2 linked regions of the Homo sapiens genome follow. The protein of the gene in region 2 purifies or fractionates together with the protein of the main gene of each other region. This does not show direct contact. Each region holds a gene or a part of one and is shown on either strand. Other genes may lie near its edges. The genes, in order: SLC18A2 and ECE1.

Region 1 (3,813 bases), on a different chromosome or scaffold from region 2:
AGGCAGACCCAGAAAGCAAGGTTCTCCGTGATCACAACTCACTGAATGTTCCCGAGGAAAGGGTCTGGCAGACCATCCTGTTCAACCTTTGGTTTTCCATCTGGGCCCAGGGAGGTTTGGGGCAGAGGCAGGGGAAGTCCTGATCCCCTCCACCCCCAGCTCAGGGCTCTTCCTACCATTTTTCAAAGTCTCCATGAAAGCAGGAAAGGAAAAAAATAAAAAGGGGACCTCTGTGTCAGTGCAAACTGCGCCAGGGTCACTGGGCGAGGACTGCCGCTGTCCAGCACCAGGCAGGCCCCTCTTGCCAGTTTGCCTACACGGGGGCCTTACCCACCTAAGACCCCCATGGCCAGGCCTCCCAAGGCGATTCCCATGACGTTGCCTCTCTCTTCATCATCTGTGTAGACACTGGCAAGCATGCCCATCCCTACACAGGGAAAGAAATAGTCAACAGGCCAGCTCCGGGGAACAGCAAAAGAATAATGCGTGACTCGCCTTCCCTCTCCAGCCAGCCTTGTGATCTTCCCAAACCTGTCAGATTCACTAAAATGTAAGACCAAGCAGAACCCAAGAGGAAAGTGGGTGCCTTCTCCAAGAATCCCCAGCACCCCAACCACCACCAATACCTGAATTCCCTGAATGAGTCCAGCTCACTCTGCAAGGGGCCCCTCACGAACTCACTCAGGCATTCCACACCTACCAGCCACAGAGGAGCAGGACGAGCCGATGCCCTGCAGCGACCTGGCAATCAGCAGGAAGGCATAGCTGCTGGAGAAGGCAAACACTGCCGAGAGAGGGGGTCCAAGACCGCACATCAGTGCTGCTGGGACACAACCGTCCCAAACAGGAACGTTTCAGAAGCCCCCCTTAACCCAGTGGAGCATTTGCATGTTAGCCACCCTGTGCTTTTGTTCCGTAAAAAGCTATCAATTCCTTTCTGCAATTGTTGCCAATACACAAACCTCCCAGGCCATATACTTTTTTTTGAGATGGAGTCTTGCTCTGTCGCCCAGGCTGCAGTGCAGTGGTGCAATCTCGGCTTACTGCAACCTCCGTCTTCCAGGTTCAAGTGATTCTCCTGCCTCAGCCTCCCCAGTAGCTGGGACTATAGGTGCATGCCACCACACCTGGCTACCTTTTGTATTTTTAGTAGAGACGGGGTTTTGCCATGTTGGCCAGGTTGGTCTCGGACTCCTGACCTCAGATGATCCGCCCACCTCAGCCTCCCAAAGTGCTCGGATTACAGGCATGAGCCAACCACGACCCCCCCCGCCCCCCCGCCGTCCTTAGGTTGTATTGTTAATTCCCGGCTCATGGGCATCAATGCCCACCCTGATGAGACCCACACTCAGAAGGAAAACACCACACACTTACTAATTGTTGAGACAAACATGATGCAGAATCCCGCAAATATGGGAATTGGATAGCCAATTCTGCAAAACACAAACATCAGACAAATCTGGTGACTGCAGGCTATTTTTTTAAGGCTTTATATTGATTTTCGCCTGGCTACCCTTTGGGATCAGACAGATAAGTGTTTGGTGGACTTTTCTGAAAATTCATATACTCAGTGCTTCCTATGTGACCTTTTTGTGTTTGACTGTCTTGGAACGTGAATACATTTATGGACTGCCACTGTGAACAGAAATTTGTTTGGAATAAATGTTAACACAATATTGGCAAGTAACCCAGAACACATCCAAAATACACGGCCCCTATTTCTGTCATTTTTAAAAAATGATTCCTTTAATTATAGTCTTTGCTAAAGCTCTCCCAAAGGAGCCACTGCAATCAAATGATTCGGGTAAAAGGCCATCAAGTGATTCCACTGGCAGACTGCAGTATGTCTAAGAGGCATTAGGAAGCAAGATGTTAAGATCTGCCTTCCTGTTGACCCCATGAGGCCAACCCAGAAAGACAAAGTCTCATTTTCTGTGCAAAATTTCAAAATCCAAATTGCTCCGTGAGACCACTGCTCACCTAGGACTCTGGCGCCAGGTCAACAGGGCTGGTGGAAAGACCCTGGCATTCCCCTATGCCATGTCTGGCTGGACACATGACCCTGCCACTTAATCTAGGGAGGTCTCCTCTCAGTCCCTCGGAGAGACCACCGCCCACCTCCCAGGACTGGAGTACAGAAAGAGATATGGATGTTAAACTGTTAACACCAGTGCCTAGAGCATAGAAGGTGCCTAAGAAATGTCATCTCCTCCCTCATTCTCTTTCTTCTTTGTCCTCTGTTTCTGCTGGATTAAGTAGACAGCTGGGTCCCTGCTCTGTGGGTGGGGCATGAGGGTACAGGCAGCTTCCCAGCCCCTCTGCCTTGAGAGGAAGCCAACAGTGGCTGAGCTCTTGCCCAATTGAAGGTTTGCTCCAACCCAGAAGAGCCTGAAACATCTCTAAGTCTCTTCTGTCTCTAGCTCTGGACCCTCAGGAACCTGGAGAGGAATGAAATGAATCCAGGAAGGCAGAAGGGCCAAGCATCCTGAGCTCTGGCAACAGCCTGGAAGGGTTCTTCCATTCCAGGCTTTAATAAAAAATTGTAATCGGCTGAGCATGATGGCTCATGCCTGTAATCCTGGCACTTTGGGAGGCCGAGGTGGGCGGATCACCTGAGCTCAGGAGTTCAAGACCAGCCTGGGCAACATGGCAAAACCCTGTCTGTACTAAAAAAAAAAAAAAAAAAAAAAAAAAAAATACAAAAAATGAGTCAGGCATAGTAGTGCACACCTGTAATCCCAACTACTTGGGAGGCTGAGGCACGAGAATTGCTTAAACCTAGAAGGCAGAGGATGTAGTGCGCTGAGATCATGCCACTGCACTCCAGCCTGGGTGACAGAGCGAGATTCTGTCTCAAAAGTAAATAAATAAATAAAAAATAATCATAGCGCCTTCATTTAAAGTTTACACTCAGTTCTCCAAGCATTTACACCCACCAGATTTAGTCATGATTTAATAAGGGCCCTATTTCACCTCCCTATGTTACAGATGAGGAAACTGAGGCATGATATCTGTCATTACTTATCAGATGTCATCAGACTAATTTCGCCTGGGCCATTCCCACATGGCTTTTCCTTGTAAATTTTACCACCTCCGCCAGTACCCAAACGGCATATATAGCTTTAAATAGAATCTTTCCAAAAGTTCTCTTGACCATATTCAAATATTTTTTAACTGCTTCACCTGTATCCAGAAACCAAATACCAAAAATACAGAGAGTAACTCACAAGCATGACAGATTCCCAGACAGTCAGTCCCCTCCCACAAACCATGCAAAGATTCCCCTGCTGTGAACAGAGATGAGCTTGTAATTCACAAAGTGGGGCCCCAAGCAAATTGGGTAAACCAGAGAAGATGCCAGGATTCTGACCTGCAGTTCAGATGGCCATCGGGTGACAGCTTCTTCTGTCTCAGCCCACCCAGAGCTGATTCTCTGTACCCCTTATTCATGTGGACAAAAGAAACCCAACACCGGGGGCTCACACGGCACTGCAGGATACTGAATCAGGAAACGTCCAGGAGGCTCAGAGAGGAGAACTCACAGGCAATTTATTTTCAGCAACTACAGTTTGTCCCATGAAAGAACGGGCATATGACAATCTTCCGGGCTGTCCTGGAATAAACACAGGCTTCTCCCTCTGTTCAATATATATTTGGAAAATCTAGTTGTTGAAGTACCAATACGTATCAAAGCTATTGGAATTAGGGGCTTCACTCTTGTTTCACCAGTTCTTCATTTTGGCTATTTATAAGGCTCTAATATGGAACCCTTCAGGCTGCAGGGACATCCCTGAAGGCAAATAAGACATCTGT
Region 2 (3,813 bases):
AGCTGGTGTGGTCATGACCCCGAGCCTCCAAGTAAACACTATTAATTACAGAGAAGCAGCCTGGTGTCGGCCAGGCGCCTATTTTGGAGTCACTTACTAGCTGTGTGCCCTTCAGCAGGTAACTTGACCTTTCTGAGCATCAGTTTTTCCATCTGTGGACTGGGCATAACAACCATCCTTCCTTTGTCACATAGTTTCAAGGACTAGATGAAATGAGTATAAAAGCCCCCAGTCCAGGGCCCTGTCTGAAACCTGGAGGCCATCCCAGCCTCCCTAGCAGCCGGCGCTCAAGTTACCTGCAGCTCGGCTGCCGTCACTTTGTGGTAGATGAGCTCCTCATCACGGCGCTTCTCCTGTGGGATGGTGATGTTGGCCAGTGCCGTCTCAAAGTCCAAGATCTGCTGCATCTGGGGCCGGATGGCCTCCTCGTCCCCGCCGCCCAGCAGCTTCCCCAGCTGGACCATGTAGTTCAGATATCCGGTCAGCACCTGCAGGGCCCATACCCCAAACTGTCAGTGGCTGCCCCCCCACTATCCACTGGACGAGAGTTGGTGGGGGGCTTGGCCAGCCAAGTCCGGCACAGGGAGCCAGGGGGCTGCACAGTGCCCCCAAGACACCCGTGGGGCCAGGTGTGGTGGCTCACGCCTGTAATCCTGGCACTTTGGGAGGCTGAGGTGGGTGGATCACCTAAGGTCAGGAGTTTGAGACCAACCTGGCCAACATGGCGAAACCCCGTCTCTACTAAAAATACAAAAATTAGCTGAGCATAGTGGGAGGTGCCTATAATCCCAGCTACTCAGGAGGCTGAGGCAGGAGAATCACTTGAACCCAGGAGGAGGAGGTTGCAGTGAGCCCAGATTGTGCGCCATGGCACTCTAGCCTGGGCGGCAGAGAGAGACTTTGTCTCAAAAAAAAAAGAAGAAGACACCCGTGGGAGACACAGCATTGAGAATGATCTCGGGGCCGTGTCTCTCTGCTGCTTCCCTACAGCCTCCAGGAGAAAGCCCAAAGTCTTGGCTCGTCTCACAGGTCCCCACCTGGGCTGGTCCCTGTCTTCCAGGGCTTGTCCTGGGGCTGTCTTTCCATTCTTAGAATGCATCTTTTCTGACCACCCCCCACCCGTGTTCCAAGATCTGAATTAGGTCTCCACGGTAGACTTTCTCAGCTTCACTTTCTCTTAGTTAAATAATATCCGCCTCGCCGACCAAACCACAGGCCCTGTGGGACGAAGGCTATGGTGGTCTTGTCTGCTACCATCTCCCCAGCATCAGGCACTCTGTGGGCGCTTGGTCAAGTACATGCCGGCGGAAGGATGAAAGGACAGATGAATGAGTTCCAGGTGAGGTCGCCCCAAGAGGCATCACAAGAGGCAGGCCAGGGGGAGGGAGAGCCATGGGCTTCGGAGCACGTGGATCCGGATGTGAATCTCAGGCTCGTCATTTACTGGCTATGTGACCTTGAGCAGATCACTTAGCATCTCTGAGCCTGATACCCTCTTCTGTAAAAGGCAAGACAAAACTAATTCCTGTTTGACAGATGAGGCAAATGAAGTTCAGTATCTGCAGGGTTAATGGGAGGGTCACAGGTGATGTATAAAGGGCCAGGCGAATTGTGGTAGCTGTTATTGCTGCCTCTGCCTCTCTCTAGAACCAGGACAAATGATACCTGTCTCTTGCCCCTTGTGTCCATGATGCCTGAGTGACACAGCCAGCCTAGGGGTGTCCCTCCCCTGCCAGGGTCTGCCTGTTTCACCCATCAGGTCACTGACACCCCTGGGCTCCCCTAGCTTCAAAGACCTGCACAGGTGTGGGTGTGGACACGGAGCAGGAAGGACCGTGCTGGGAGGCAGGCTGGGAGGGGAGAGGCACGCTTACCTTCTCGTTTTCAGTTTTGTTCAGGTAATAGTCTCTCGAGGGCAAGCCCAGGCCAGACTGGTCCACCTGGCAAGAGAAGCAGGCATGAGAGGGAATTCGTGTTGCAATGCGTGTATCCACTGCACGGCCTCCTGCCCTGGGAATGGCTGGCACATGGCAGCAGAGGCCCAGCTCAGGCCCTTGGAGAAGCAGGACTGCTGGCTACAGTCACTGAGAAGCCCACTCAGGGACGGGATGACACATTCCTGCCTGTCCACGTGGCCCCCCCCCGCAGGGCTCCTGGGCTCCTCAGAAGGGCTGGACAGAGCCACCCTCCTTTTTAAACAGCTACTTGCCTCGGCAAAGTGCCTCTATCTCCCCAACGCTTTCCAGGTGGTTAAGAGTCACTCAAAAGCTGTGTGATCTTGGCCAAGTTACTGAACCTTTCTGATTCTCAGGTTTCTTCTCAGGTAAATAGGGAAAATAAAACCTAACCTTCAGAGCTAGAATGGGGATTCAAGAAGACAGTGCTGGTCAAGTGCCTGCCAAGCAGGAGGGGAGGGTCAAATTCTGCTTGCTACTATTGGCACCCATGGCCACATCTTGGCATACCTAGGACAGGTGTTATTGCAATCCATTTGATTTATAAGGTAACTGTAGCTCTGAGAGGTTGAGGCACTTGCCCAAGGTCACACAGTGACTGAATGGTAGAGATGGGCTGGGAACTCAGCTTTTAGGACCCCCAGCCTGGGTTTCTCACTTCTGCATTGGAGGTTGGGGCAGACCAGTGCTGGAGCTCCCCTGGGCAGGCTGAGCCTCTGTCTGGGGCATGCTCTGACAGGGAGAGATGGATTCAAACCCATTCCAAGAAGAGTTACAAAGAGCAGACGCTAAGGAGGGGGAAACCAGGATGTGGGTTCAGCTGTGCCCAGGAGTTGACATCATTCTTGGGGCCCACGGAAACCCATCAGCACCCAAAGTTTCACCTGTATGCAGTGCCCATCTACGCAAGGCCAGCAGCCTGCAAAGATCTCACCAGTGGGGCCTCTGGAAATAACCCAGGCTCAGAAACTAGAAGACCGCCGTCCCACCCAGGGCAAGCCCCTCTCCCACCCCAGGTCCTGCTAAACTCAAAACAGGAAGAGGTCGTGCCCGCCCCCTCGACCGCTGCAGGTTCAAGCTAGCTCACCTGGATCACGTTGCTGTTGGAGTTCTTGGAATCGGCACTGACATAGACAGAGAAGAAGGGTGAGGTGCGGTAGTGGGCGGTGACCACCTGCAGGGTGTCCTGGAAGTTGTCCTTGGCCCAGGGACCTGTGATGTTCCAGCCCCCGAGCTGTGGGGAGGGAGAGCAGGCAGGGAGGTGATGAGGTGGCGGGGAGACCCAGATGTGAATTCTGGTTCTGCCGCTGACTTGCTCTGTGACCCTGGAGCAGTCGCCTGACCTCTCTGAGCCTCAAGAGCAAAGGAAAGGATTGGTCTTCATCGGGGGTTTCCGACCCATGAGCTGGAGACCCATGGATGGAGCAAAGGCTTATCCTAGACAAGCCAAGCAGCCAGGCATGAATCCAGCCGCTCCCTGGGTGGCTGGGATGAGAATGGGAAAGAGACTTTTCCCGGTTCACGGTTTATATTTTGGATAATGAATTGTGTGAATGTGATTATATCAAAACATAAATTCAATTGTGCCTCTGGGATAAAAAAGGCTCCACATGTTTAAGAAGGTTGGTAAATTACGGTCTACTTTAGTCTCAAAGTTGGGATTTTAAAAAAATTTTTTTTGAGATGGAGTCTTGCTCTGATTCCCAGGCTGAAGTGCAGTGGGGCCATCACAACTCACTGCAGCCTCCACCTCCTGGGCTCAGGTGATTGTCTCACCTCATCCTCCTAAGTAGCTATGACTACAGGTGTGTATCACCACACCTGGCTAATTTTTAAATTTTTTGGAGATGGGGTCTTG

Evidence for each region.
Region 1: the proteins of ECE1 (region 2) and SLC18A2 purify together in Homo sapiens (co-immunoprecipitation; one large-scale study listed by IntAct). This does not show direct contact.

Annotation. Positions count from the first base shown.
Region 1 is NC_000010.11:117,251,019-117,254,831, reverse strand, and holds part of SLC18A2 (synaptic vesicular amine transporter), read right to left. Parts: intron 1,434-3,813; coding exon 1,375-1,433; intron 785-1,374; coding exon 701-784; intron 428-700; coding exon 335-427; intron 1-334. UniProt on the Homo sapiens protein: Electrogenic antiporter that exchanges one cationic monoamine with two intravesicular protons across the membrane of secretory and synaptic vesicles.
Region 2 is NC_000001.11:21,255,651-21,259,463, forward strand, and holds part of ECE1 (endothelin-converting enzyme 1), read right to left. Parts: intron 3,190-3,813; coding exon 3,043-3,189; intron 1,941-3,042; coding exon 1,875-1,940; intron 489-1,874; coding exon 297-488; intron 1-296. UniProt on the Homo sapiens protein: Converts big endothelin-1 to endothelin-1.